Linked DNA regions of Homo sapiens. The protein of the gene in region 6 purifies or fractionates together with the protein of the main gene of each other region. This does not show direct contact. Each region holds a gene or a part of one and is shown on either strand. Other genes may lie near its edges.

What was found.
Region 1: the proteins of TMPRSS5 (region 6) and ADGRG6 purify together in Homo sapiens (affinity purification with mass spectrometry; one large-scale study listed by BioGRID and IntAct). This does not show direct contact.
Region 2: the proteins of TMPRSS5 (region 6) and DDX19B purify together in Homo sapiens (affinity purification with mass spectrometry; one large-scale study listed by BioGRID and IntAct). This does not show direct contact.
Region 3: the proteins of TMPRSS5 (region 6) and YBEY purify together in Homo sapiens (affinity purification with mass spectrometry, with the first as the bait; one large-scale study listed by BioGRID). This does not show direct contact.
Region 4: the proteins of TMPRSS5 (region 6) and LMAN2L purify together in Homo sapiens (affinity purification with mass spectrometry; one large-scale study listed by BioGRID and IntAct). This does not show direct contact.
Region 5: the proteins of TMPRSS5 (region 6) and SLC25A40 purify together in Homo sapiens (affinity purification with mass spectrometry; one large-scale study listed by BioGRID and IntAct). This does not show direct contact.
Region 7: the proteins of TMPRSS5 (region 6) and TM9SF4 purify together in Homo sapiens (affinity purification with mass spectrometry; one large-scale study listed by BioGRID and IntAct). This does not show direct contact.

What each region holds. Positions count from the first base shown.
Region 1 is NC_000006.12:142,304,849-142,308,871, forward strand, and holds part of ADGRG6 (adhesion G-protein coupled receptor G6 isoform beta 1 precursor), read left to right. Parts: intron 1-4,023. UniProt on the Homo sapiens protein: Adhesion G-protein coupled receptor (aGPCR) for steroid hormones, such as progesterone and 17alpha-hydroxyprogesterone (17OHP). Involved in many biological processes, such as myelination, sprouting angiogenesis, placenta, ear and cartilage development.
Region 2 is NC_000016.10:70,326,556-70,330,453, forward strand, and holds part of DDX19B (ATP-dependent RNA helicase DDX19B), read left to right. Parts: intron 1-2,736; coding exon 2,737-2,914; intron 2,915-3,275; coding exon 3,276-3,513; intron 3,514-3,898. UniProt on the Homo sapiens protein: ATP-dependent RNA helicase involved in mRNA export from the nucleus.
Region 3 is NC_000021.9:46,292,403-46,296,425, reverse strand, and holds part of YBEY (endoribonuclease YbeY), read right to left. Parts: exon of another isoform or gene 3,908-4,023; intron 265-3,907; coding exon 196-264; intron 1-195. UniProt on the Homo sapiens protein: Single strand-specific metallo-endoribonuclease involved in rRNA maturation.
Region 4 is NC_000002.12:96,729,765-96,733,787, forward strand, and holds part of LMAN2L (VIP36-like protein isoform 2 precursor), read right to left. Parts: intron 3,838-4,023; coding exon 3,755-3,837; intron 1-3,754. UniProt on the Homo sapiens protein: May be involved in the regulation of export from the endoplasmic reticulum of a subset of glycoproteins. May function as a regulator of ERGIC-53.
Region 5 is NC_000007.14:87,848,754-87,852,776, reverse strand, and holds part of SLC25A40 (mitochondrial glutathione transporter SLC25A40), read left to right. Parts: intron 1-2,828; coding exon 2,829-2,896; intron 2,897-4,023. UniProt on the Homo sapiens protein: Probable mitochondrial transporter required for glutathione import into mitochondria. Glutathione, which plays key roles in oxidative metabolism, is produced exclusively in the cytosol and is imported in many organelles.
Region 6 is NC_000011.10:113,703,404-113,708,113, reverse strand, and holds the start of TMPRSS5 (transmembrane protease serine 5), read left to right. Parts: upstream 1-1,805; 5' UTR 1,806-1,889; coding exon 1,890-1,892; intron 1,893-4,710. UniProt on the Homo sapiens protein: May play a role in hearing.
Region 7 is NC_000020.11:32,157,806-32,161,828, reverse strand, and holds part of TM9SF4 (transmembrane 9 superfamily member 4 isoform 1 precursor), read right to left. Parts: coding exon 3,860-4,023; intron 3,379-3,859; coding exon 3,315-3,378; intron 1,838-3,314; coding exon 1,718-1,837; intron 554-1,717; coding exon 464-553; intron 1-463. UniProt on the Homo sapiens protein: Associates with proteins harboring glycine-rich transmembrane domains and ensures their efficient localization to the cell surface.

The DNA.
Region 1 (4,023 bases), on a different chromosome or scaffold from region 6:
TGCATACTAATTGACAGGGGTGGTGCCATATAAAGGATATATTGATCAAAAAATGTGGCTACCTGAGTGTCATGTTACTTTCCATTATAAGCATTACTTGAAATGGAATTATCTGGAATGCCTTAAAAAAAAGCTTCAAGATCCATTTATTTAAAACAGAGCAAATATGACAAAAGTTTAACATATTTAAAATAAGTCGTTAAGAAATCACAAATCAATGAAGAAAATATGTATATTTGTAATAGAAAACCATACAAATGACTTGAACATGACAATCCAAATAAAGGAAATTCAAATGAGATGCAACTTCTTTTATCAAAGTGACAGGGATTAAAGCAATAATACTCAATAGTGAGGAGAGGGCCGTGACATGAAAACAGTGATATGTTTCAATGTAAATGTGAATTTTTTAACTCTTTTAGAAATCATTTTAAATCTACAGGACGTTTTCAAAAATAAAAGTTATGCAAAGAACACACCTCTATACCTTTTACCCAGAATCACCTATTCTAATTATTGGCCCCATTTGTTTAATCATTCCCGTTCCTCCTTTCCTGCCCCCCCCCACGAGCCCCTCCTGTACACACACACACACACACACACACACACACACACACACACAATTTTTTTCTGAACCATCTGAGAACAAGTTGTATGCATAAGGGCTTAAGAGTTTAATTTTTCAATTGAAATTTTAAAGATATTTCTAACTTTAAATATAGTTGCCAAAAAATAGAGATCCTGTATACCTTTGACCCAGTTCCCCCAATGGTAGCATTTGGAAAACCTGTAGTACAATATTAAAACAAGTATATTGACACAATTTACTTCTCTTTTTCAGATTTCCCAAGCTTTATGTGTAGTCATTCTTGTGTACCTATGTATGTAATTCTTAAGGCTGAGTTTTACTCTCACCTCTAGTATAAGCCAGTTATGCATGTTACTGTTCAAATAAAGTTTAAGATTTGTGCAGGGTTGAAGAATAAATCAGCCTTTTTGAAGTGGAGGTACACCCAGCTTAATAAAGGTACTCAAATCGAGTTAATAGAATAGCACTTTTTTTTAAATACATTGCTTTGGCTCAGGAACATGATCTTTAACCAAAAAAAAGAAAAACGATTATGAGCAGACTTGAATAAACCAAATTACTGTTCTTTTCACTCTGGAAGAATTAAGGTATTTTCTCTGCCATTCCCCAGTCCCTTTTATGAAAAGATTTGCCATAGAAACAGAGTTGGGATATGGCGAAAGCAGTTATTTCTGACAGTTGCTGGTATTGATTGCATTAGTATCGTATCAATTTCTCCACTAATATCAAAATTTCTTCACTAATTTCTCTTTAAATTGTGACTTTTGGGGAAACCAGTAGGAGTAGAGAGATGGAAAGTGGTAGGTTTTTAAGATTATTTCGGTGATCCATTTGGATAAAATAATGCCTACAAGGAATCATATCGACATTTAAAGCAATTCTGTAGAAGGGTTACATTCTAAAGCTTCCGGAAACAGGACTAAAGCAAATTGTATTTTGTAGCCTATGTAGATTGAAAAAGAGAACAAGTTTGCAACAGAGGTAGTGTGGGTCTCAAAAAGGACGCTAGGTTGGAAGCCAAGTGACAAAAAGGATCTTTTGGCTCTGACACCACTGATCTTATGATCTTGGGCAAGTAGTTTAGTATCTCAGTTTTTCACCTGTAAGATGATAGGTTTTTTTTGCATAATCTTTAGGTTTCTTCCAGATATAGGAGTCTATGACTGTCTTTTACTTAAAAAATGTTCCTGCTGTCTTCAGTAGAACTTTAAGGCCACAATCAAAATGGTGTAAGAGTGTACTTTTGTGTGTGTGTGTTTTTTTTCCTTGTAGTTCCTATTTAGAACCTTAGTAACCCTGTTCAGGATTTTCCATTCTTGGGAGATAGTTATTTAAATCTCAGGGATATATCTTTGCTAAGTGATCCCCTGAGAAAACACATAGTACTTTCCTTCCTCTGTTCTATTCTTAATTTATTTGTTTATCTTCTTCAGTAAACAGTAAAGTGGATGAAAGTTGGCCTGTCCTATGGTTTGTTTAGTTACAAGTGCTTGCCTTGTTGGGTTTCTTTTCTGTCTGAAGTGATAGAGTCTGGAGACATGGAATGCCTTAAGCCATGGTCATCATTTGCAACTGATAGGATTGCAGGCAGCTTTGATAAGACAGCTTCAGAATTGAATATGGAATCCCTAAATGCTGAAACCTTTTATAGCAAAGAAGTTGCCTGAGCGCATAAACAGTGTTTTGTGGCCAAACTAATGAGCAGGAATCTATGAGTATTATTTAGAGATTAAATGAATCTGAGAGAAAGCTATTATTCACACATTGATGAAAGATAATTGTCGTATGTCAAAGAGTGTAAGAAGCTGGGAATTCTCTTGAGCTGATACATCCTTCTGTTAATATCTGTAAGGGTGACAGCCAGGTTTGATTGGTCTGTCTCTTTATTTTTCTGGACCTAAGTTTCCTTTTTTTGTGAAATGAGGTTAGATTAGACTTCAGCATTGGTCCTCCTAGCTCTAAATTTCTTTGAATATGTAATTGTGCTTTTGTTTTAAAAGCATACTCATTCATCCAGCATCAGTAGGAAACAGGCCTATTCTTCCAAATAAGTGAACTTTCTATGGGACGGAAGTTTGTCACCTACCGTTTTAAAAGCCCCTACAGATTAACCTGTACTGTTATTTCCAGTTCTTTTTGGTGGGTAATATCCTATTTACAGAAGAAAAGACTAAGGGTTTAAGTACTTGCCCTACAAACCACACAGTTTATAGAGGCACCAGGAGGTAAGTTGTTGCTGTTTGAGAGTCCACATCCATTATTATAATTACTAATTTCTTACTTACTAAAACATACTTCTCATTAGCAGTACTTCTTTTAATCTCAAATATTTTGGATGGATGGATTTGAAAACAACTTGCAAACAAGAGATACTCTTCAAATCTTAACCTTTTCCTGGTTTCGAATTTTCCTAGTTTAGAATTTCCATCAGGAGAGCTGCATGATTTTAGAACTTCTAGTTTGGTGAATACTAAAACATGGCTTGAGTTTCAGATACTACTTAACATTTCTTTATTCATAGCAAACATGAATAACCAATTTCATTTCTGGCCCAGGTGATCCCAGAAGTGACCACAAAGTCAATTGATTGGTGTTGGCATATGAGATTAATCTTGTTTACTCTTGCTTGAGTCTTTTCCTTTGATTTCACTGTGGACAGAATAACACCACTTAAATGAGAATGCCTGGAATGATAGTAATCATAATAATAGCTAATATTTATTGAGTACTTGCTGAGTGTCAGGAACTGTTCTTGAAAGGCATCGTCTTATGTAATCATCTCAGCAACACTGTGGACTAGGTTCATTGCTGTTCCTTATTTTACAGGTAAGAAATAGGAGGCACAAGGCGATCAAGCAATTTCCCAAGGTTTGCAGCATAGTTCATAAGTAGCAAACCAGATCTGTCTCACTCTAAGCTTATTCTCTTGGCTATGAGATGGAGATGGTCTCTTAAAGTTTAAAAATGCAGTCTTGAGGCAAGTGCAGGAGTCCTTTGATGTCTAATTTTGCTCATTTGAGTATTTCTCTTTCTGCTTTTCTGTTTAGTATTACACATTTTACTCAGGTAAGCAAACTGCAGGCTTTAGGGTAGATATTACTGTAACCCTAAACTATCTTATTAGTTACTCCTTGCTAAAATGAGTCTCAGTTACTACTTATAGGCAAAGTAACTCTCTCTCAGGGGATTTTCAGGTTTCCTGGAGATTTCTGACTATTGCTTACTTACCTTCCTGCCTCACAACTCTTCTGCTCACCAGTCCACTTATGGTCCTTTTTGATGACTGATTTTTGTAATTTCTTCCTTCTTTGCTGGTTTGCCTTTTTTTTTTGATGGTGCTGATTCAATGAACTGTATTATACCATTGTTTTGAGACAATATAATATGAATGTTGCTTTCTAAATCATTATTAAATATAATTTTCAGAATTAAAT
Region 2 (3,898 bases), on a different chromosome or scaffold from region 6:
AAACAGAGTCTTGCTCTGTCACTCAGGCTGGAGTACAGTGGCATGATCTTGGCTCACTGCAACCTCTGCCCTCCGGGTTCAAGTGATTCTCCTGCCTCAGACTCCCAAGTAGCTGGGATTACAGGTGCCTGCCACCATGGCTGGCTAATTTTGTATTTTTAGTACAGATGGGGTTTCACCACGTTGGCCAGGCTGGTCTCAAACTCTTGACCTCAGGTTATCCATCTGCCTCGGCCTCCCAAAGTGCTGAGATTATAGGTGTGAGCCACTGTGCCCAGACTTCTTTCTTTTTTTTTTGAGAGAGAGTCTCGCCCTGTCGCCCAGGCTGGAGAGCAGTGGCACAGTCTTGGCTCACTGCAAGCTCTGCCTCTGGGGTTCACACCATTCTCCTGCCTCAGCCTCCTGAGTAGCTGGGACTACAGGCGCCCACCACTACGCCCAGCTAATTTTTTGTATTTTTAGTAGAGACGGGGTTTCACTGTGTTAGCCAGGATGGTCTCTATCTGCTGACCTCGTGATCCTCCCGCCTTGGCCTCCCAAAGTGCTGGGATTACAGGCGTGAGCCACTGCGCCTGGCCGCCTTCTTTTTTTTATTTTGAGACAGTTTCGCTAGGTCACCTAGGCTGGAGTTCTGACTCCAGGCACGAGCCACCGTGCCTGGCCACACCCAGCTAATTTTCTAAAAATTTTTTTTGTAGGCCAAACATGGTGGCTCATGCCTGTAATCCCAGCACTTTAGCAGGCCGAGGTGGGTGGATCACGAGGTCAGGAGATAGAGACCATCCTGGCCAACATGGTGAAACCCCATCTCTACTAAACATAGAAAAATTAGCCAGGTGTGGTGGCATGTGCCTGTCGTCCCAGCTACTCAGGAGGCTGAGGCAGGAGAATCACTTGAACCCGGGAGGTGGAGGTTGCAGTGAGCCAAGATCGTGCCACTGCACTCCAGCCTGGGCGATAGAGCAAGACTCTGTCTCAAAACAAAACAAACAAAAAAAAACAAACAAATTTTTTTTTTTTTTGTAAAGACAGTGTCTTGCTATGTTGCCCAAGCTGGTCTAGAACTCCAAGTCTCAAGCAATCCTCCTGCCTCGTCCCCTCAAAGTGATGGGATTACAGGTGTGAGCCACTAGGCCAGGACTGAATTTGTTTAATTGCCTAATTTATTTATCTTCATTAGCAGAATAAAAACCCAGAATGTTTATGGCTATTGACTCTGGGGCTTATTCTGTTAATTATTTTTTGTTACTAATTTTTTCTACACTAGTTTGTTTTACAGTTAATATTATTTAAGTAATTTTAAAAGTGTTGTTGGCCGGACATGATGGCTCATACCTGTAATCTCAGCACTTTGGGAGCCTAAGGTGGGTGGATCATTGTAAGGTTAGGAGTTCGAGACCAGCCTGACCAACATGATGAAACCCAGTCTCTACTAAAAATACAAAAATATTAGCTGGGCATGGTGGTGCACACCTGTAATCCCAGCTACTCAGGAGGCTGAGGCAGGAGAATTGCTTGAACCCGGGAGGGGGAGGTTGCAGTGAGCCGAGATTGCACCACTGTACTCCAGCCTGGGCGACAGAATGAGATTCTGTCTCAAAAAAAAAAAAGTGTTAGAGGTTTGGTTGAGTTTTATGGATCTCTGAAACAAATGTGACCTTATGAAAATCAAGTCTGCATACAGTGTCCTAATGCCAACTTGAGGCCAGTTCTGAAAAGTAAATAATACAGTGAAACTTATTGGGAGATAATCATTTAAAATTTTGCAATTTGTATTCGAATTAGAAGGGTAGAGAATTCTGAATTTTTTTTTTTTTTTTTTTTTTGAGACAGAGTCTCAGTCTGTCTCCGGGCTGGAGTGCAGTGGCGCGATCTCGGCTCACTGCAACCTCCGCCTCCTGGGTTCAAGCGATTCTCCTGCCCCAGCCTCCCAAATAGCTGAGATTACATGAGCCCACCACCACACCCAGCTAATTTTTGTATTTTTAGTAGAGATGGGGTTTCGCCATGTTGGCCAGGCTGGTCTCGAACTCCTGACCTCAGGTGATCCGCCTGCCTCAGCCTTCCAAAATGCTGGGATTACAGGCATGAGCCACCGTGCCCGGCCCTTTTAGTTATTTTTAAATGTACAATATATTGTTGACTGTAGTCACCACATTGTGCTATCAAATGCTAGATCTTACTTATTTTAATTGTATTTTTGTACCCATTACCTTTTCAGCATTTTTGTCTGTTTTTATGTCCATTAAATGCTATAGTGATATCCTAACCTTTCCTTAATATATTAATGCAAACAGCAAAACATTTGCATTAAAATATATAATAGGTTTAGAATTTCTCAGAGAGAAGAGCTGGCTTTGCCTTTGAAATACCCATGGAGGCCGGGCACGGTGGCTCATGCCTGTAATCCCAGCACTTTGGGAGGCCGAGGCAGGTGGATCACCAGGTCAGGAGTTCAAGACCAGCCTGGCCAAGAGAGTGAAACCCACCTCTACTAAAAATACAAAAAAAAAAAAAATTAGCCAGGTGCAGTGGCAGGTGCCTGTAATCCTAGATACTTGGGAGGCTGAGGCAGGAGAATCGCTTGAACCTGGGCGGCAGAGGTTGCAGTGAGTCGAGATCATGCCATTGCACTCCAGCCTGGGCAACAGAGTGAGACTCTGTCTCAAAAAAAAAAAAAAAAAAAAAGAAAGAAAGAAATACCCACACATGGAAAACATCTTGGGGTCTCCACAGTGGAAAGAGGCCAGAAGATCAGTGAGCAGATTGTCATTGGCACCCCTGGGACTGTGCTGGACTGGTGCTCCAAGCTCAAGTTCATTGATCCCAAGAAAATCAAGGTGTTTGTTCTGGATGAGGCTGATGTCATGATAGCCACTCAGGGCCACCAAGATCAGAGCATCCGCATCCAGAGGTAGGGATCTCGAGGGTGGGGGACTCCTCAGATTCCCCATCTGCAGTGTCTTCTCCCTTCACTTCAGATGCCTCCTCTGGCTTCTGCCTGGGTCTTGGCTCTCGTACTCTCAGCAGCATTTGTTTGACGGGCCACTTCCGTGTCAGCGCTGGCCACAGTCCCTCCCAGCCTGGGTTGAGAAAGGAGACCTAGGGACTCTCCCCCAACCCCTGTCCCCATCCCAGGCCTGCTGCTCCTCCTCCCCAAGACGCTCCTCTCCCATCAGCCTTCCTGGGCATCTAGACCCTCCCAGCTGGGAAGGCTGTGCTTCTGTCGCTTCCCGGGGCCACCTGGGGCCACCTACCAGGGCCTTCCCTTGCAGGATGCTGCCCAGGAACTGCCAGATGCTGCTTTTCTCCGCCACCTTTGAAGACTCTGTGTGGAAGTTTGCCCAGAAAGTGGTCCCAGACCCAAACGTTATCAAACTGAAGCGTGAGGAAGAGACCCTGGACACCATCAAGCAGTACTATGTCCTGTGCAGCAGCAGAGACGAGAAGTTCCAGGCCTTGTGTAACCTCTACGGGGCCATCACCATTGCTCAAGCCATGATCTTCTGCCATGTGAGTAGCAGTGGCAGTGGCAGGCCTGGCCCTTCCCTCTCAGCCAGCTCCCCACAGGGCTCAGGAGGACTGGATGCCCCTGGGTGCCATGGGAAGAAACGAAGTGGTTTGTTCTCCTAAGGTTTTAGTGAGTCGTAAGAGGGAGACTTTGATTCCACTTCTTAGTGATTACTTGGAGAAAACCCCAAGTAACAGCCAATGAAATAATTTTTAGATTTTTAAGAATATAAGCTGGGCGGCTGGCACGGTGGCTCATGCCTGTAATCCCTGCACTTTGGGAGGCCAAGGCGGGTGGATCACCTGAGGTCAGGAGACCAAGACCAGCCTGGCCAACATGGTGAAACCCCATCTCTACTAAAAATACAAAAAATTAGCCGTGCGTGGT
Region 3 (4,023 bases), on a different chromosome or scaffold from region 6:
TAGTGAACACATTCAGCTGGAAGTATTTGGGGAGCCCGGTGTTGAAAGCAAACATCTGTGTCATTTTTACAAGGGCAGGTCTGAGGTCCAGTTCCTGCGGGGGCGGTCAAGATGGAGGGTGGGGGCTGGCAGGGGCCTGGGGGAGCCTCCTTCCCCCACGCACCCCCTCGGTAGTGGGATGGATGGGCTCCTTACCTGCTGCCACTCTGCCTCCGTGCCGTGTGTGAATCCCAGCAAGTGACAGAGTCCGTGGGTGGCCGTCACCTGTCAGAATAATTTTAAACCGGCTCAGAGGATGACCCCACAGGAACCTGCCCCTTCAGGGCCACCCCAGGGCCACAGGCTGCTCTTGGTATGTGGCTGCAGGACCCCAGGGTTGCTGTGAGACCCCTGGGCAGGAATTACAGGCACTCAGCTTCAGTTCCCTTCCATCTAAAATGGAAAGCAAGCAAGCCCCTTTGAGAGTCTTTAGTCAACGTGGATTGCTGTCTGGGCCAGCACTGTGCTGGGGAGGGGCCCCCAGGATGGAACTGCCCAGCCGCAGGAGCAATGGGCAAGGGGGGATGGAATATGAAGAAGTGGGGAGGGGTGGGTGCCACGGGGTGGTGGGGCAGTGGGGCACCGGCCAGGGGTGGCCTCCCTGCCCTAAGAGGGACGAGGCAAGCGCACAGCCCACACCCCAGGTCCAACCCCCAGTCAGGATGGGGCCTCCGGTGGCCCCTGATTTTACTGAACACTCTGGGTAGAGCTTTGGGGCACAGGCAGCACAGGGAGTGCGGGAGAGGTATGAAGGCGGAGGCGGAGGGAGGTGCAGCTGCTGGTGAGTCAGGAAGACCCACAGTCGCCATGTCCCCCTGGAGAGAGGGCTGGATTAAAGCCCACAGGGGAGGGGCACCCGGATGGAGCCCAGAGCTGGGGGAAGAGGAGGAGGAGGAGGAAGAGGAGGGAGGGCCTGTGGACCCTGAGCAGGCACAGCACCAAGGGGGTTTATGGAGCCACATGGGCCATAGGGGTAGCACTCCCCTGGGGTTTGGGTGGAGGGAAGAGGGAGGTCTGGGAGGTGGGTATCCTTGGGGCTGGCGGGAGGTGCCTGGAGACATGGAGGACAAGGCAGGGTAGATGGAGAGTGCAGCTGAGAGCCAGCCCTGAGCAGAGCTGGCCTGGCCTGTGGCTATGAGGATGGGGTCCTGGGCTGGTGGGCTGGCCCTCCCCTCAGGGTAATAGGGAGCCCCAAGGAGAGGGCTCTGGGCCCGAGGAAGAAATGCCAGGGGAAGACCAGGGAACAGAATCTTAGGTTTGGGGAAAATGGAAGCAGATGTCCACATACCCCCCCGCCCACAGTTGCTGGCCACAGAGATCCCAGGGCTGAATCTCCGGCTGGGCCACTTCCTGTCACTCTCAGAAACTCCCTCTTCCCCAGCAGGGTGTGCATGGCGGGCAAGTCCCACCCAGGTCTGGAGGGAGCAGTTGGGGCCCAGGTTCCTGTGTGGCCGTCCCATCCTTTCACACTGGGTCTGGCTGGGAAGCTCTGCCTCAAGCCACACAGATGCACTTGGATCCACAAGGGCGATTCAGGGCATGGCTGTGCAGCCAAAGGAGGCCAAGTTAAGTATGATTCACTCATACATGGCTTTTCAGAATGCTTTTCCTTTTTTTTTTTTTTTTTTGGCATCAAGCTGCTGAAACCACCTGTGCAAAAATGATAACAGTGAGAGAGGTCTGGGGTGGCTGACTCCACTGAGTCCCGGGCACGGGTCAGGCTAACCGCGGGAGGAATTTAATCTAGAGTCTAACTTGCGTGGCTGTCCCCACTGAGTCCCGGGCACGGGTCAGGCTAACCGCGGGAGGAATTTAATCTAGAGTTTAACTTGTGTGGCTGACTCCACTGAGTCCCGGGCACGGGTCAGGCTAACCGCGGGAGGAATTTAATCTAGAGTCTAACTTGCGTGGCTGTCCCCACTGAGTCCCGGGCACGGGTCAGGCTAACCGCGGGAGGAATTTAATCTAGAGTTTAACTTGTGTGGCTGTCCCCACTGAGTCCCGGGCACGGGTCAGGCTAACCGCGGGAGGAATTTAATCTAGAGTTTAACTTGCGTGGCTGACTCCACTGAGTCCCGGGCACGGGTCAGGCTAACCGCGGGAGGAATTTAATCTAGAGTCTAACTTGCGTGGCTGACTCCACTGAGTCCCGGGCACGGGTCAGGCTAACCGCGGGAGGAATTTAATCTAGAGTTTAACTTGTGTGGCTGACTCCACTGAGTCCCGGGCACAGGTCAGGCTAACCGCGGGAGGAATTTAATCTAGAGTTTAACTTGTGTGGCTGACTCCACTGAGTCCCGGGCACGGGTCAGGCTAACCGCGGGAGGAATTTAATCTAGAGTCTAACTTGTGTGGCTGACTCCACTGAGTCCCGGGCACGGGTCAGGCTAACCGCGGGAGGAATTTAATCTAGAGTCTAACTTGCGTGGCTGACTCCACTGAGTCCCGGGCACGGGTCAGGCTAACCGCGGGAGGAATTTAATCTAGAGTCTAACTTGTGTGGCTGTCCCCACTGAGTCCCGGGCACGGGTCAGGCTAACCGCGGGAGGAATTTAATCTAGAGTCTAACTTGCGTGGCTGTCCCCACTGAGTCCCGGGCATGGGTCAGGCTAACCGCGGGAGGAATTTAATCTAGAGTCTAACTTGCGTGGCTGACTCCACTGAGTCCCGGGCACGGGTCAGGCTAACCGCGGGAGGAATTTAATCTAGAGTCTAACTTGCGTGGCTGTCCCCACTGAGTCCCGGGCACGGGTCAGGCTAACCGCGGGAGGAATTTAATCTAGAGTCTAACTTGCGTGGCTGACTCCACTGAGTCCCGGGCACGGGTCAGGCTAACCGCGGGAGGAATTTAATCTAGAGTCTAACTTGTGTGGCTGTCCCCACTGAGTCCCGGGCACGGGTCAGGCTAACCGCGGGAGGAATTTAATCTAGAGTCTAACTTGTGTGGCTGACTCCACTGAGTCCCGGGCACGGGTCAGGCTAACCGCGGGAGGAATTTAATCTAGAGTCTAACTTGCGTGGCTGACTCCACTGAGTCCCGGGCACGGGTCAGGCTAACCGCGGGAGGAATTTAATCTAGAGTTTAACTTGTGTGGCTGTCCCCACTGAGTCCCGGGCACGGGTCAGGCTAACCGCGGGAGGAATTTAATCTAGAGTTTAACTTGCGTGGCTGTCCCCACTGAGTCCCGGGCACGGGTCAGGCTAACCGCGGGAGGAATTTAATCTAGAGTTTAACTTGTGTGGCTGACTCCACTGAGTCCCGGGCACGGGTCAGGCTAACCGCGGGAGGAATTTAATCTAGAGTTTAACTTGCGTGGCTGTCCCCACTGAGTCCCGGGCACAGGTCAGGCTAACCGCGGGAGGAATTTAATCTAGAGTTTAACTTGTGTGGCTGTCCCCACTGAGTCCCGGGCACGGGTCAGGCTAACCGCGGGAGGAATTTAATCTAGAGTCTAACTTGTGTGGCTGTCCCCACTGAGTCCCGGGCACGGGTCAGGCTAACCGCGGGAGGAATTTAATCTAGAGTTTAACTTGCGTGGCTGACTCCACTGAGTCCCGGGCACGGGTCAGGCTAACCGCGGGAGGAATTTAATCTAGAGTTTAACTTGTGTGGCTGACTCCACTGAGTCCCGGGCACGGGTCAGGCTAACCGCGGGAGGAATTTAATCTAGAGTCTAACTTGCGTGGCTGTCCCCACTGAGTCCCGGGCACGGGTCAGGCTAACCGCGGGAGGAATTTAATCTAGAGTTTAACTTGCGTGGCTGTCCCCACTGAGTCCCGGGCACGGGTCAGGCTAACCGCGGGAGGAATTTAATCTAGAGTTTAACTTGCGTGGCTGTCCCCACTCAGTCCCGGGCACAGGCCAAGCTAACCACGGGAGGAATTTAATCTAGAGTTTAACTTTAAATCAAGAATAGTAATCATCCCTCCCTAAAACGAATCCCCTCCTTGCTCAAGACCGAAGCCACCTCTGTGAAGCTTGTG
Region 4 (4,023 bases), on a different chromosome or scaffold from region 6:
CAAAGTGCTGGGATTACGGGTGTGAGCCACCGCGCCCGGCCTTAAATTTAGTTTTATAAGGATAAAAGGAACCCATGTTAGTCCAAGGGTTCTCAACCTCGGCTATACATGTGAATCTCCTGGAAAGCTTTAAAAGAGGAAGGCTGCCTAGACTGCACTTCAGACGAACTGAATCAGAAGCTCTGGGGTTGGGACTGGATGTCAATATTTTTAAAAGTTCTCCAGGGAATTACAATGTGCACTTGGAAGTAAGAACCACAATAGCTAGCCAGAAAAGATGTCTCAATTTTTACCATCTAAAATAAATTTTTTTTAATTAACATCTACAAAATCCTTACAAAATAAACCCAAGTCAGAATTTCTACTTTCTCAAACCAGAATTACTACTATCTCATGGTGAAATGGAAGCTAACAGAGTTTGAACAATTTGTTTCTGGAAGAAACAGAGAGACAAGTTTAAAACTCTTGTCAGGCCCTAAAGCTGATAACTCTTATTCAGATCCATTTCTAACTACCACTATTTCCTCAGCATGACTACAAATCCAGTCATGATCCTCTCTTCAATAAAATCCTTTAATGTACCTACCCCTTCAGAATCAAGTCCAGACTCCTCAACAGGAACACAATCCTTCAGAACTTGGCCCCAAGTGGTATATGGTGAGCATGAGTCACATACATTCAGTCTGCTCTGGCTCTCATCTAAACAGTTCAGCCACCAACCACCCAAGCAGATGCCAGTCAGTCTCAGCGGCTAGTTAACATGCCGAGGCTACAGTGTTAATATTGTAGAATGCAAGGTGAACAGCAGCCCTAGGAACTGTGCAACATAACAAGACTACTGGCCCTGCTTTTCATTCTAGCCTCATCTGTCTCTGATTCTACTTTATTTCCACACACTCATTATCCCCTCTCTCTCTCTTTTTTTTGAGATGGAGTTTCACTCTGTCGCCCAGGCTGGAGTGCAGTGGCGTGATCTCAGCTCACACTGCAACCTCCACCTTCCAGGTTCAAGCGATTCTCCTGCCTCAGCCTCCTGAGTAGCTGGGACTACAGAAGCATGCCACCACACCTGACTAATTTTTGTATTTTTAGTAGAGACGGGGTTTCGCCATGTTGGCCAGGATAGTCTCGGTCTCCTGACCTCGTGATCCACCCGCCTTGGCCTCCCAAAGTGCTGGGATTACAGGCATGAGCCACTGCACCCAGCCTCATCATCCCCTCTCTTAACCTTAGGACCTCGGCTTTTTTCCCTCTGCATGGGACACGGGTTCCTTACTCTGCAGACCTCAACCTAAAAGGCACTTCCTGGAAGAAGCCTTCCCCACTACCACCAACACTACTGCCCCACTTCAGGTTAGAAGCTCCTGCTGTGTCCTCCCATAGTGCCCCAGAGTTCCCCCATCAGCATTCTCAGTGCTACTGAGTACAAGGACCATGTTATCTTGCTCACTAATTCCCAGGGCCTGGCACCTAGAAAGTGGTTAATGTATGTGGAATGAAGAACAGCCCAGAAGGAACACAGAGAAGCAGCTGTAACTGATCCACAACAAAAGGTTATTCTCCTAACTCAGGTCTCACATTCCACCACCTTTAAAGTGAGCTCGCTGGGCACAGTGGCTCATACCTGTAACCCCACCACTTTGGGAGGCCAGGGTGGAGGAATCACCTGAGGTCAGGAGATGGAGACCATCCTGGCCAACATGGTGAAACCTTGTCTCTAAAAATACAAAAATTAGCTGGGCGTGGTGGCGTGTGCCTATAATCCCAGCTACTCAGGAGGCTGAGGCAGGAGAATGGCTTGAACCCAGGAGGTGTATGTAGGTTGCAGTGAGCCGAGATTGCACCACTGCACTCCAGCCTGGAGACGAGCGAGACTCCATCTCAAAAAATAAAAAAAATAAAAAATAAAAAGTGAGTTCTGTGGGAAATGTTAACAGCTGTTGAATCTAAGCATCACAGATACAATGATCATTCTCTATTCTTCTAATTTTTTTTGTTTATTTTGGTGACAGTCTTGCTCTGTTGCCCAGGCTGGAGTGCAGTGGTGTGATCTCAGCTCACTGCAACCTCCGCCTCCTGGGTTCAAGCCATTCTCCTGACTCAGCAACCTGAGTAGCTGGGATTACAGGCTGCAGTGCAATGGCGTGGTCTCAGCTCACTGCAACCTCCACCTCCCAGGTTCAAGTGACTCTCCCACCTCAGCCTCCCAAGTAGCTGGGACTACAGGTTAACACTAATACTAATAAAAATACTAATTTTTGTATTTTTAGTGGAGACAGGGTTTCATAATGTTGGCCAGGCTGGTCTCAAACTGCTAACCTCAAGTAATCTGCCCACCTCGGCCTCCCAAAGTGCTGGGATTACAGGCGTGAGCCACCATGCCTGGCCTTCTAATGTTTTTTAAGTTTGAAAATTTTCATAATAAACCTTTGAGGAAAAAAATAATGTGACCTTTGCCTCTATTTCTAATCCTGATTTCCTCGCTAGGTACTTAGCTACAGGATACCCAGCAACAACCTGTCATAATTTCCCACCATCTGATGGCAGTGCCGTAGGACATAGAGAGAGTACAAACCCACTGTCAATATAAGAAAGCAATAGCCGGGCATGGTGACTCACGCCTGTAATCCCAGCACTTTGGGAGGCCGAGACAGGCGGATCACGAGGTCAGGGGTTCGAGACCATCCTGACCAACATGGTGAAACCCCGTCTCTACTAAAAATACAAAAGTTAGCTGGGTGTGGTGGCATGCGCCTGTAGTCCCAGCTACGCGGGAGGCTGAGGCAGAAGAATAGCTTGAACCTGGGAGGCAGAGGTTGCAGTGAGCCGAGATCGCGCCACTGCACTCCAGCCTGGGCGACAGAGTGAGACTCTGTCTCAAAAAAAAAAAATTAAAAAAAAAAAAGAAAGCACTAAAAAACTCTTAGGTCAGGTAACAAAAAGGCCTGCCAACAGCCAGATACTAGGTTCCAACAAAATGCTGGGCTTTCATCAGTTTCCTTCTCGTTATAGCCTTTTCTTTCTTTCTTTTTTTTTTTTTTGAGACAAGAGTCTCACTCTGCTGCCCAGGGGGGAGTGCAATGGTGTGATTCTCTTGCCTCAGCCTCCCGAGTAGGTGGGATTACAGGCACCCACCACCACACCCATCTAATTTTTATATATTTAGTAGAGACGGGGTTTCACCATGTTGGCAAAGCTGGTCTCGAACTCCTGACCTCAGGTGATCTGCCCACCTCGGCCTCCCAAAGTGCTGGGCTTACAGGTGTTAGCCACCACACCTGGCCAATTATAGCCTTTTCTATAGGCGAGGAGAACTGTTCTTCAGGTCTGAGAAGAAGAAGAAGAAAAAGAAGCTGAAAAGTGTGTGCAAGTTGCAGAAGAGAGCACAGCACTGATGGATTAAAAGTCAGGGGAGGCTGAGTTACGTAAATTCAGCTTGCTCTGGTGCTGGTCTAGCAGCCAAATCACCAATCAACCAAACATGCTCAATTTTAGTGGCTATCTAATAGGCACAAGAGAGAACATGATTATCACTAAAGAAAAAGCCCCTGTTCAAGACAGCTATTCCCAAAAGACTGTGCACTCCTAAATAGTCCCTTTAGAAAAAAACACTGACAAGGACATTAACTTTCAAAGTTCAACAGATGAAGAACCCCTCACTTTCTATCTCCTTTGTTCCCTCCTGTACAACATTCCTGAGGCAAAGAACTGTGATGTCAGTGTAGCTGACCTAGGCTCTGACACTTGCCATTACCTCTTGCTGCTTCTCCTCATTGGGGTAGGTGTCTACAAATACTCCCAGCCCCACAAATTTGTCCATGTTTCCAAACACAGGCCCTAGAGAGAGAGAACAGATGATGAACAATGAAATAAAGCTAAGAGTTGATAAAGGAATAATATATCACTATGATGGAGGAAAAAGTAAAATTCAAATGACTCCCAAGCCTCTCTCAAGATGAGAAAACACATGTTTAAAAGTACCCAGCAAAGTGCATGGCCTGTAACAAGTGCCCAGTAAATATC
Region 5 (4,023 bases), on a different chromosome or scaffold from region 6:
TTTCCTCCATTGAGTTGCTTTTTGCACCTTTGTTAAAAATCAGTGGGGCATATTGGGTCTGTCTATTTCTGAGTTTTCTATTCTGTTCCATTTATCTCTGTGTCTGTCACTCTGTCAATACCACAGTCCTAATTATTGCACCTGTAAGTCTTGAAATTAGGTACACTGATTCCTCTCACTTTATTTTTATATTTCTTTTTCTTTTTTTGAGACAAGGCCTCGCTCTGTCACCTAGGCTGGAGTGCAGTGGAGCAATCATGACTCACTGCTTCCTCAATCTGTACGCCTCAAGAGATTCTCCCACCTCCGTCTCCCAAATAGCTGGGACTATAGGCATGTGCCACTGTGATTTATTTTTTGTAGAGACAGGGTCTCACTATGTTGCCCAGGCTAGTCTCACACTCCTGGGCTCAAGCAGTCCTCCTGCCGTGGCCTCCCAAAGTGCTGAGATACCGGCGTGAGACACAGCATCTGGTCCTTATTTATTTATTTTTTTTTCAAAGTTGTTTTCGCTATTCCCAAAGTTCCTTTGTCTTTCCACATAAATCTTAGCATAATCCTGTTTATATTTACAAAAAAATATTGCCAGGGTATTTATTGGAATGGCATTCAACTTGTATGTTAATTTGGAGGGTAATAACATCTTTAATGTGTTGAGTCTTTCAATCCATTTTCAACCTGCTTATGACATTATAATTGAAGTGAATTTCTTTTAGACAGCATAAAATTGAGTCATGTTTTAATTTCACTCTGTCAGTTTTTACCTTTTAATTAGTATACTTAGTTTAACTATTATAATGCAATTAGAGAGTAGGACTTAAGCCTATCTTTTTAAAAAAATTTTCTCTTTGTTGTGTTTTCTATTTCTGTTTTGCCTTTCCTGCCTTCCTTTGTAAGTTACTGGAACATTTTTTAGCATTCCATTAAACTCTTTAATCTCACTTAAAACATTCTATTTTAGCTGTCTTTTTCTGTCATTGCTTCCATGGGGAAGAAAGGATGTCATCTTGTTACTGCCGGGTAGCGTTAGAAGTCCAGGTTCCCCACCCAGCCTCTATTGACACACAGTGTGAGGGAAGACCTCTTTTGCTCTTGAGCATGTGTGGGAATTCTGGCTTTCTATATGGTTTCCACTGACGGTGTAGTGGGGTAGTCTCATTGCTGGGTGATCGTGAAAGTAGTGACTCTCCACTATTCCTCCTGTGACACCACCCTAGCAGAGGGACAAAGGAGCCTTATTGCTGACCTGGTAGGGGTAAAAATCTTGGTTCCTTATTGACCTTCTGTCAGCCTTACATTGGTGGAAGTCTAGGCTACCTACTTGGCCTTTGCTGATATGGGTCTGGGTGGTGCCACAAGTTTCACTTTGGTGTTTGGCTAGAGCAGAGTGGTTATTGTCTAAAAGTTTTCTGTCTTACTAGGGTTCCCGTAGCTGGGAAAATATGCAGTCCTTTGTGACTAATGTCTTTTACTTAGCATAGTGTTTTAAGAGTCATCCATGTTGTAGTATGTATCAGTATTTTATTTCTTTTATTGCCAAGTAATATTATGTGAATATATTACATTTAATTTATTCATTCATCATTTGATAGACATTTGGGTTGTTTCTACTTTTTGGAATAATTAATTCTATGGACATTCATGTTTCTGTGTGAACATGTGTTTTAATTTCTCTTGGATATAACCTTATGTGAATATGTGTTTTAATTTCCCTCAGAATGTAACTGGAGTTGAAATTACTGAGTCATGTGATAACTATGTTTAACCTTCTGAGAAACTGCTAGGCTATTTTCTAAAGTAGCTACACCATTCTGTATTCTCACCAGTAGTATCTAAGGGTTCCAATTTCTTCACATTTTCACCAGAATTTATTATTGTCTGTCTCTATAATTTTAGCTTATTTAGTAGGTATGAAGTCACATCTCATTTGTAGTTTTGCTTTGCATTTTCATAATAATCAATGATGAACATTTTTCCTTTTTCTATTTTTCTTTTCTTTTTTTTTTTTGAGACAGGGTCTCACTCTGTTGCCCAGGCCTGGAGTGCAGTGGTGTGATCTCAGCTCAGTGCAGCCTCTCCCTGCTGGGCTGAAGCAGTCCTCCCACCTCAGACTCCCAAGTAGCTGGGACCACAGGAGTGCGTCACCATGCCCAGCAAATTTTTTAGCTTTTTGTAGAGATAAGTTCTAACTATATTGCCCAGGCTGATGTCGAACTCCTGGGCTCAAGGGGTCTCCTGCCTTCCAAAGTGCTGGGATTACAGGCCTGAGCCACTGCATGCAGCCAAACAGTTTTTCGTGTGCTTATTGGCCATTTGTATGTATTCTTTGGAGAAATATATATTCAAATCCTTAGCCAATTTTTAATTACTTTATCTTTTTGTTATCAAATTGTAAGAGTCTGTCTGTTAATAGAAGACTTCTCTTCAGCTCTGCCTACTTTTGGTTCCTCTCCAAAGATTTCACATAGCACATTTTAATATTTTCTCTAATTTCATACTTAAGCAAGTTTAACCAGTTCTCTGCTTTTGCTCTACTTCCTTTCTTATAATAATCTTTTCTAAAGCTTTTTTTCTAAGCTCTTAGTAGAACAATCTAGAGCTGAGTAATATAGACTTCATTCTGTAAGAAGTTAGTATCATCCAGAAATGCTTCATTTTAATTGTGTTAAAATTCCCTTTTTAAAAAGAATGGACATACATAAATCCAAAAAGCTTATTTTTTTAGATATAAATACCTGAAAGAATGAAATTACCAATCATCAGTATAAATTTTTGTATAAAAGGTTTAAAGATATATTTTGATTACTTTTTTTCTATTATAACTTTAGGATGCATTTTTTAAAATCATTCGAAATGAGGGCATTAAATCTCTATGGAGTGGCCTTCCTCCTACCCTGTAAGTTGAAATTTAATGTTTTTTCTACTAAATAATGATTGTTATTTTATCCTATAATCAGCATGGTTGGACAAAGTCTTGCATTTTTAATATTAGAATGCTTTCATTTTCTGAGGTATTGTTTTTTAAGCCTCACAGCCACCCACATGTTTGATGATGTACTAGAAGGACTTGCAGGACCTGAAGAGGTTACATTCACAGATACGGTTTATTACAGCAAAAGGATAGAAAACAGAATCGGTAAGGGAAAAAGGCACATCAGGAGTTGTCCAGAAATAGGCTTCCAAAGTCCTCCCTTATGGCATTGCACAGGATGTGCTTATCCTTCTATCAGTGAGCTGTGAAGTATACAAAGTGCTTCTGCCTTGGGAAACCCATTTGAGTTTTGAGTGTAGGGCTTTTATTGAGCATGGGTTATATGGATACATTCTGTCTTTTAGGCCAGTTGTGATGAGCAAAACTTCAAACCCACAGAAGGAAAGAAGTGTACTATAAATCGCAGTGTACAGATCAACCTGGACAAGTTGGTTTAGTGCTTCAGACATACAAAAAACCTTCTAATGGGGAATACTCCTGGGGATATATTCTCACGAGTTGTCCAGAGGTCAGGCATGCACATAGGCCCTCCTGAAGTTATATAAGGTTTGAGCAACCAAGCCTGCTGTGTTGTCTTTGCTACACAAGCATATGGTAATTTTTTTCATGTTCAGAAATAAAGACTTTGGTGTTTATTTGTTCATTTTACTAAAGCTGTATGATATATTGCAAAATGTATACTTTCCTTTCTCCAGGTAATTCTAATTGTCTACTGCCTGGCGATTACATGAATTAATATGATAAACTGTTAATATTGAATGTAAAAATGTAAAATAATAACTTGGCTTTTGCTGTCTCATTTATTCCCAAGAACTTTATACTTTTAATGGAGGAAATTAGTCAATTTGAGGCATTTATTTTAAACAATGTTTAAGGTTTAAAGTTAGTGGCAGATCCGATACCCCACCAGTCAGTCCTGCTCCTAAATTCTCAGCAGCAAAGTCCACCATATAACATTAGGCATTCCAATTTATAGTCTGTGAATGTCCTTTAGTTACATCATAAACATGGACTAGTTTCTTGTTGCACTA
Region 6 (4,710 bases):
GCTATTCCTCTATTCTCCTATACCTCTGGGTTTATGTCTTTGTTATTTCACTTTTCATAATAACAGTTACTTACATCTGTTTCTATCCCTTTTTCCAGTCTGTAAGCACCCAGTCTGTGACTTGTTCATCCTCCATGCCCAGGCTAGTTTCTGACACACGGTAGATATTCAGGTTTGTAGTCTGAAGAGTATTGTCCTAGGAGACCTCAGAGCCTAGCCAAGGGCTTCTGAGTTCCAGCCACCATTTCTCTCCTTCTTCTATAATTCACAGCTGACCTCTATCTCTTCATTGTCTTATGTGTGCTCTGGTGTGATGAGAGTAAGTTCAGAATTGACACACTGAGTGTATGATATGGTTTGGATCTGTGTCCCAACCCAAATCTCATGTCAAATTATAATCCTCAATGTTAAAAGTGGACTCTGATGGGAGGTGATTTGATCATGGGAGTGGATCCTTCATGATCAAGAAACCTTCATGATTCATCATCCACTTGGTGCTATTCTCGTGATAGAGTTCTCATGAGATCTGGTTGTTTAAAAGTGTGTGGCACCTCCCCCTTCTCTCTCTTGCTCTTGCTCCTGCCATGTTAGAGGCCTTGCTCCCCCTTTTTCTTTCACCATGATTGGAAGCTTCCTGAGGCCTCCCCAGAAGCAGAAGTCACTGTGCTTCCTGTACAGCCTGTGGAACAGTGAGAACTTCTTTTCTCTTGAAATTGTCCAGTCTTAGGTATTTATTTATAGCAGTGCAAGAATTGACTAATACAGTGTATGAGGAAAATAGGGAGCAAAAAGTTAAATCCTGTGTGGGTGACATTCAGCAACAACAACAACAACAACAACAACAATAATAATAGCAGCTACTGTTTGCTGAATACAGTCTGTGCTAGACACCAGGCTATGGGCTTTATAGGCAATATCTCAATGAATTCTGACATCAACCCTATGAGGCATGTACTATTATCCTCATTTTACAGGTGAGGCTGAGTAAGGGAAGTGGGAGAACTGAGGTTGGATGAAGGCCTGACTCTAAAGCCTATATTCTTAACTGTCCCTTCTGAGGGGTTTTTGAGCAGCCAGTTGGAGGAAAGGAAGCCCCACCTGTGTTTGCCTTCCCCAGGACCTATTCTGCCTCCTTGTCTAAAGAGATGTGCCTGCTCCCAGGTGTGTTTAGCCCCGTGTGGGCTCACTTGGGTCACCTTGTGCTTTGAAACAAGATAGCACTGAGGGCTCCTGCTGCAACTGGCTCCCAGGGCAGACAGGGGTAGAGGCCCCACTTCCCTGGCATTGGGGAGACAGATGTGGCCCTCGGGCAAGAGGTGACAAAGATCTTCCATCATCACCCCAACAATTCCAACATGGTGACAGCCCCAGACTGCTAGAAAAGCCAACCCACATGGAGGCGAGATAAAATCCAGAGGGCTCAGAAACATTTCAACAAATGCTAATATCGGTCTCTCCAATACAGCTCTGTCAGCAGGAAGGGAGAATTCTGCCAGCATGCATGCATGGGGCACACTTTTTGGCACAAGGGACCTTGTTGCTAAGCAACAGTAGTTGGCCTCCCCTCCTCCCCATAACCTTTTCCTCTGTTTCTGAGTTTCCAGTTAGCAGATGGGAGGGGCTGGGGTTGCCTAGCCCAGCCCAGCCCTTGTCCCCCTTTCCTGCAACAAGGGGCCTATTCATGGGTCCTCAGCAGAGTTCATTGTCTCTGTGGCGCGTGTCTGTGTGAGTGTTGGAGTAGGGATACAGGGAGGGGCCATGTGCGAACCAGGGAGACCTCATCTTCCAACCAAGCTTGCTGGGCTAGCTTTAATCAATGCTGGCCTGAGAACAGGAGCGGAACATTGCCTAGTAGACCCTGAGGCTTTACAACAGTGCCACTGACCCCTATGGTAAGGTTACGTCTCTGTGCCATCCCTGCTGTGGCCTCTCTCTCTTTCTTTCTCTCTCCCTCCTCTGCCCTTGGGATTCTAGGCTGGTGGAAAGAGCCTCCTGAGGCAGCTCTGGTACAGGGGCTGGATCCTAGCAGGGGCCCTGTGTGGCCAATTTCCTGTTTCCTCCCCAGGGACTGCCCTTTATTATCCTCTTTCATCCCTCTTAGATCTATCAAGTGCTTTGCACATATGTGGTGCTCAACAAATCGTTATTACGTTGAACTTCCACTCAAAAAGAGGAGCAAGGAGTCCTGTAATTTTAAAGGCCATTTTTTTTTCTAGGCTAGCACATGAGCTTGGGCAGTTGAATTTTGAGGTGGAGCAGTACATGAGGTGAGGCCAGTTTATTCAGAGGCTGGGTTTAAAGCCAAGCTTCCTTGGTACTGAGGCAGAAGAAAAGACTGGCCATGCCCTGGAATTCTCTCTAGATCAGGCCTGCCTCTCCACTCAGAGGGACATCAGCTCAAGAGCAATCACACAACCCCAGAGAAGAAATCCAAACCTCACCTTCTGTTGCTGCTTCTCTACTATCTTATGGGTGCTTGACTGGCTCTCCCAAGCCTGCTGTCCTGCAGCCTCACTGCCTGTGTCCTGTGAGTCTCATCTGTAGGCACAAGAAAGAATGTGTGTGGTTTGATACAAACCATGACCTCTGTTTCTCCTGGAAAAGCAAGGCCTGCAGCTCTTGGGAGGTCCAGTCCTATAGGTCCTGGGCTGTGGCTGGTGTAGGGAATAGGGAGGTGGGGCTGGTACCTCTTTCTATAGGCAAGATGTTGGGGCTGCTGCGCTGTCTGTGAGCTGAACTGGCATGGGTGCTCTGGGTCCAGTGGAATGATTTTCGGGGCAATTTGGAGGTGACTGACCTAGGTGAGTCTGACAAAGTCTTTCCTTCCTCCTGCTGGAGGGTTAGGAAGACAGTTCAGTGGAGTACGAAGGCATGACTGGGGAGGTTTTGGCGTGAAAAGAACATTTCATGTGACACATGAAAATCACATTTAAGCCAATACTGTCCTGGAGTCAGCATTTCAGGCTTTTATCCTCATTGGGTACAACCCTATGTGTTGACAGGGAAAGATGCAGGGGAGACAGTAGTCTGCAGGGGAAACGGGAGTTGCTTCAGTTTTGAGAGATCTTATCTACCCTACTGGATTATAAATTTTGGGGGGAAGGATCCACAGCTTAGGTGTAGTTCTTATTAATATTATTATACTTAACATTTGTATTGGGCTTTACAATTTTTAAAGTCATTTTAATTCACATTATCTTATTTGTACCTCCCCCTCTGTCTCTCCCTCCCCCCTCCCTTCTTTCCTTCCCTCCTTTAATGTACTTTAACTGAATTCCCACTTTGTGCCAGGCTCTGTGCTTAGCCCTGGGATGCAAAAACCAGTGAGAAAGGAGAGAGAAGGAAGTAAATGAGCACAATATAGGGCCCAACAGGTGCTGTATGCATAGAAGGAAGCTTCCTGGAGAAGTGATGTCTGTGCTGAGTCTCGAAGGGTCAGTTGGAGTCAGTTACATGGGAAAGGGGAGAGCAGATGCAAAGTCTCTCTGTTGTGAGAGTGCCTGAAGGCACTGAAGTATGGCACGTATGTCAGTGTGATCCCAAATTTTGCTGTGGAGGGAGCAAGTGCTGGCAGTGAGGATGGAGAGGTGAGGCCAGGCGAGATCATGGAGGACTTTGTGAGCGATGCCATGGAGCTCCTGTTTGATCCTGAAGGCCACAAAGACTCATGGGGTAGAGATGGGGCTCACATGCTCATATTTGCATTTTAGAAAGATTACTCTGACTTTATGGCATGGAGAATAACAGAGAGAGACAAGATACTCGAGGAGGGAGATTATTCCTTGGAAAGCAGGAGTTATTACTCTTATTTTACAAATGAGAAAATTGAAATTTGAAGAGATGGCCTGAGTTGTCCAAGTTCACATAGTAGGTTGCAGACTTAGCTTTGAACTGTCTGGTGTTTTTTTTAAGATCTTATTTTCATTACTCCTCTTCATGGCTCATGAGCTGCAGACACACATATGACATACTCTGCTCTATGCTTTCTTATCCCTTTGCCTTTGCTGATTCAATCCTCTTTGTCTGGACTGCCCAATGCCCATTATATCAGCTCAAACCCTCTTCATCCCTGTGGGCCTGTCTCAGAGGCTGCTTTTTCTAGGAAGCCTTCTGTGATCACCTCAATGAGAAGTAAGCCCTTATTCTTTTGAATGATGATGGTAGTGTATTAGTCTGTTCTCACACTGCTATGAAGAACTGCCTGAGACTGGGTAATTTATAAAGGAAAGAGATTTAATTGACTCATAGTTCTGCATGGCTGGGGAAGCCTCAGGAAACTTATGATCATGGTGGAAGGGGAAGCAAACACACTCTTCTTCACATGCTGGCAGGAGAAAGAAGTGCAGAGTAAAGGGGGAAATCCCCTTATAAAACCATCAGATCTTGTGAGAACTCACTCACTATCATGAGAATAGCATAGGGGAACTGCCCCCATGATCCAATCACCTACTATGAGGTCCCTCCCCCAGTGCGTGGTAATTACAATTCAAAATTACAATTCAAAATGAGATTGTGGGTGAGGGGAGAGCCAAATCATATCATTCTATCCTGGTCCCTTCCAAATCTCATGTCCTCATTTCAAAACACAATCATGCCTTTCCAACAGTCCCCCAAAGTCTTAACTCGTTCCAGCATTAACCCAAAAGTCCAAGTCCAAAGTCTCATTTGAGACAAGGCAAGTCTCTTCTGCCTATGAGCCTGTAAAATCAA
Region 7 (4,023 bases), on a different chromosome or scaffold from region 6:
GATACCTGCAGCCCTAAATTTGGGTTCTACTATTTAGACTATTTCAGCATTTTGTGCTTTTATCTTTATTAACTCCTTTCTACTTTTCTTCTTTCATGTTACTCTTATCTTTTCCTTTTTCTCAAGGTGTTATTAGTCCCTCTTATTTCCTGTGAAGAGCACTGCAGGTGACATATTGCTTTCAAGTCCTGCTTTGGCTATGGCTATACCTCGTAAGTTTTACAAGCATTATTCACATTGTCACGTATCCTGATGGCCTTTGTCTCCCAAACATACAGAATACAGATTCTTTCTTTCCTAAAAAGATCCATCTTCTAGAGCAGGAACAGTTCTAGGTGGCTTTGGTCCTCCCCATTCTGGGTGGAAAAGGAAGATTCAGGCACTTGGGTTTTTCTCCCAGCATCCTCCTCCTGACCTTCCTACCCTATGAGGACTAAGAGGACCTCCTCAAGGAGGGCAGTACCTTGTTAACGAAATAAAAGATGGCATAAACCAGGACGTAGAATGCAGAGCCCCCGGAGACTAGGAAATTTCTCCACCACCAGCGGTAATCCTGAGGAGGAAACAGAGGAAGGTCAGTGTTGTCCTGGGGCAGAACCCCTTCCTACCAATTTCACAGTTGCTTGAGGGGCTGAAGACTCTGGTAAGAGCAGTAACATATGGGGTGATGGAAATGTTTCACAGCTTGACTGTGATGGTGGTTCCAGAACTGTATGCATTTCTAAAAACCACAGAACTGTGGACAAAGAAGGGTGAACTTTACAGTTTATACCTCATTAAAAAAAAAATCAACAACAAAAAAATAATTAACATTTCTCGAGCAAATGCTTAGCATGTGGCAGGCACTATTCTTTTTTTTTTTTTTTTTTTTTTTTTTTTGAGATGGAGTCTCACTCTGTCGCCCAGGATGGAGTGCAGTGGTGCGATCTCGGCTCACTGCAACCTCCGCCTCCTGGGTTCAAGTGATTCTCCTGCCTCGGCCTCCCAAGTAGCTGGGACTACAGGCACGTGCCACCACACCCGGCTAACTTTTTGTATTTTTAGTAGCGATGGGGTTTCACCATGTTAGCCAGGATGGTCTCGATCTTCTGACCTTGTGATCTGCCCGCCTCAGCCTCTCAAAATGCTGGGATTACAGGCGTGAGCTACCGTGCCTGGCTGGCAAACACCACTCTAAGTGCTATAGATGAATCCACTCATTTAATCCTGAGAGCAGCCCTCCAAGTTAGGTCCTCTCACTCACCCCATCATGTGGAGGAGGAACGGATGGCATGAAGTTAAGCAACCCGCCCAAGACCCAGAGCTACTCATGGAGGAGCCAGGGTCCCAGCCCAGAGGGACTGTTCATCCCAAACCCTGGCTTCACCCACTCTGCCAATGGCCAGTTCCCAGAGGGAGGGCAGGCCACCCAGTGTGCATCAGCCTGTTGAAGAAACTACTACTGGAGTGGACTTGGCACTGGCAAATCTACTGTCCTTTCATCTAGCTGTGGTGAGTACCCCACACAACTAAGCTGGAAGGTATCTCATTAGGCCCAGGGTACAGCTGAATACATGGAGGCTGGGAGAGGCACAGCAACGTACTGGCCCAAGAGCTCAGAGCCAGAAGCAGGGGCCACATGAAGAGCCCAGACCCAGCCTCTCCGCAGAGCCTCATCAACCCGTTCAATGCTGGATCCAGTTCTCCCTCCCCCGCCTCCTGGCCCTGCTCTCCTCACCTCTGCACACAGCTGGAAGTACACCATGACGATGCTGATTTGTGAACAGGATACCACCAGGATGATGAAAACAAGGAACAGGAAGCCAAAGAGGTAATAGAACTGATTCTCCCAGATAGCCTGTGGACACACAGTGGGGCTTCAGCTGGCTTGACCACCCTGCTCCCCTTCCCCTGGCACACCAACCTGTCACAAGGGCAGGAGTGGACACATCATCATGACACCATCAGGGCCCGTGGGCCTGGCATGTGGCTCTGGCCCCTCTTCCCCAGAGCAGGGGGTGAGCCACACTGTCCTTAGGGAGGGGCCAGGGGTTGACTGACCTGCTCTGGGTAGACCCCAGCCTGAACTCAGCAGCTTGTAGAAAATAATGATTCTTATCCAAATCAAAATTATAGAGCAGCCACCACCACTTGAGCAGCTTACCAAGCGCTAGGCCTTATGCCACATGCCTCATATACAATTGCTACATGTGTGTGTCTATGAAAGCTTGGCCTGGTAGAGCTAAGAAAGTCAAGGATCAGAGACGCTGGTGACTGGCCCAGAGTCACACAGATGAAACAGAGGGGGCTTCCCTGGGAAGTGCACATGGGCTTTGGTACCATGGGCAGCCAACACCTCCTCTGACCCTTCTCCCAGGCAAACCTGTGTGGGTGAGGTGGTCTCAGCAGGGAGGGGCTGGGCCACTACTCTGGAATAGCAGATACATGTCCGGTACTGACTTGGTACAAGGTACCATCTGTGCTGGGCCCCGAGCTGGGTCAGCCACACTTACATGCCTCTGAAGGGCCTTCCTACCAACTTTCATCTTGGCACTCTTTGGGAGGAGTCATCATCACCATTACAACAGCATTTCCTGAAGTCAAGCATTTTTACAATGACTTATTCCAACTTCACAATGACCCTGACAAGCAGGAATCATTCTGTCCACCCTCCCAGGAGCTGTGAGTAACACAGAGAGGTAAAGATGTGCAAGGACCCAGAAATGAAACCAGGTGCAACGATGCTATTAGTCATGGTGGGGAATGACTGAAGTATCACTGAGGCAGCTTCTATTTACCAAGTCCCCCTTTCCACACACCAGGCTCCCCACACACCACATATCTCATTTAAATTTTTTTTTTTTTTTTTAGATGGAGTCTCTCTCTGTCACCCAGGCTGGAGTGCAGTGGCGCGATCTTGGCTCACTGCAACCTCCACCTCCCAGGTTCAAGTGATTCTCCTGCCTCAGCCTCCCATGTAGCTGGGACTACAGGCGTGTGCCACCATGCCCGGCTAATTTTTGTATTTTCTAGTAGAGACAGGGTTTCACCATATTGGACAGGCTGGTCTCGAACTCCTGACCTTGTGATCCACCCACCTCGGCCTCCCAAAGTGCTGAAATTACAGGTGTGAGCCACCGCGCCCAGCCTCATTTCACTTTCAATGCTGCCCTGAGAGGGAAGGCTGTTGTCCAATTTCAGGGTGAAGAATGGGGCTCCGAGAGGTGAAGTGGCCCATCTGAACTTTCTCAGGCAGTAGGCAGCAGAGCACCCGAGTGGAGTGGGAGTGACCCGGCTAGCATGGGTGGAGGGGTGGGGGAGGCACCAGTACTCACACTGAAGATGAAGAAGAGCTCGATGAACATGGCGCCGAAGGGCAAGATCCCAGCCATGAGGATGCTGCCACAGAACGAGAGGTTGACATTGTTAGAGACCAGGCCACCAGGAAGCCCCAAGCTCCTTCCCAAGCTGGCATGAAGAGAGAGCACCTACACGAGTGTGGTGGTGCTAATTCTTCTGGCATATTTCTGTACTATTATAATCTCTTGAGAGGTAGGCAGGGTGGGCATTATTCTCCTCATTTTATAGATGGGCAACTGGGGTGCAGAGAGGTGGGGTGACTTGCCCAAGGTCCAAGTGATGGTCTTAACCTGTCTCACTATACCCTTCCATCCTTCCCCTTCCTTGTCCTGGTTCCTAGGATGACACCAAGTCTGCCTACAACCTGGTCACCTTGATCTTGGAGTGAAGTTAAGCTTTCATAAACTCTATTAGAGCCGGCTGAAGCGGCAGGAACTCTGGTTGCCGCACCCTTCTGGTGGCGGAGGGGGGCGTACCCTCTTCCACGTTCCCCTGCTCTTGCCTCTGCTGGAGGACTCACCCCACAAATCGGTTCATGTACCACCGCTGCTCGGGGATCTGCCGGGGAATCTGGTTGGTGCGCACAGGGTTGTCATATGGCTGCTTTCGGAAGCCGAAGTAGTAGCCCAAGTAGACGAGGGGCAGGGAGATCCCGAACCACATGCACAGCAGAGCCACCATGGT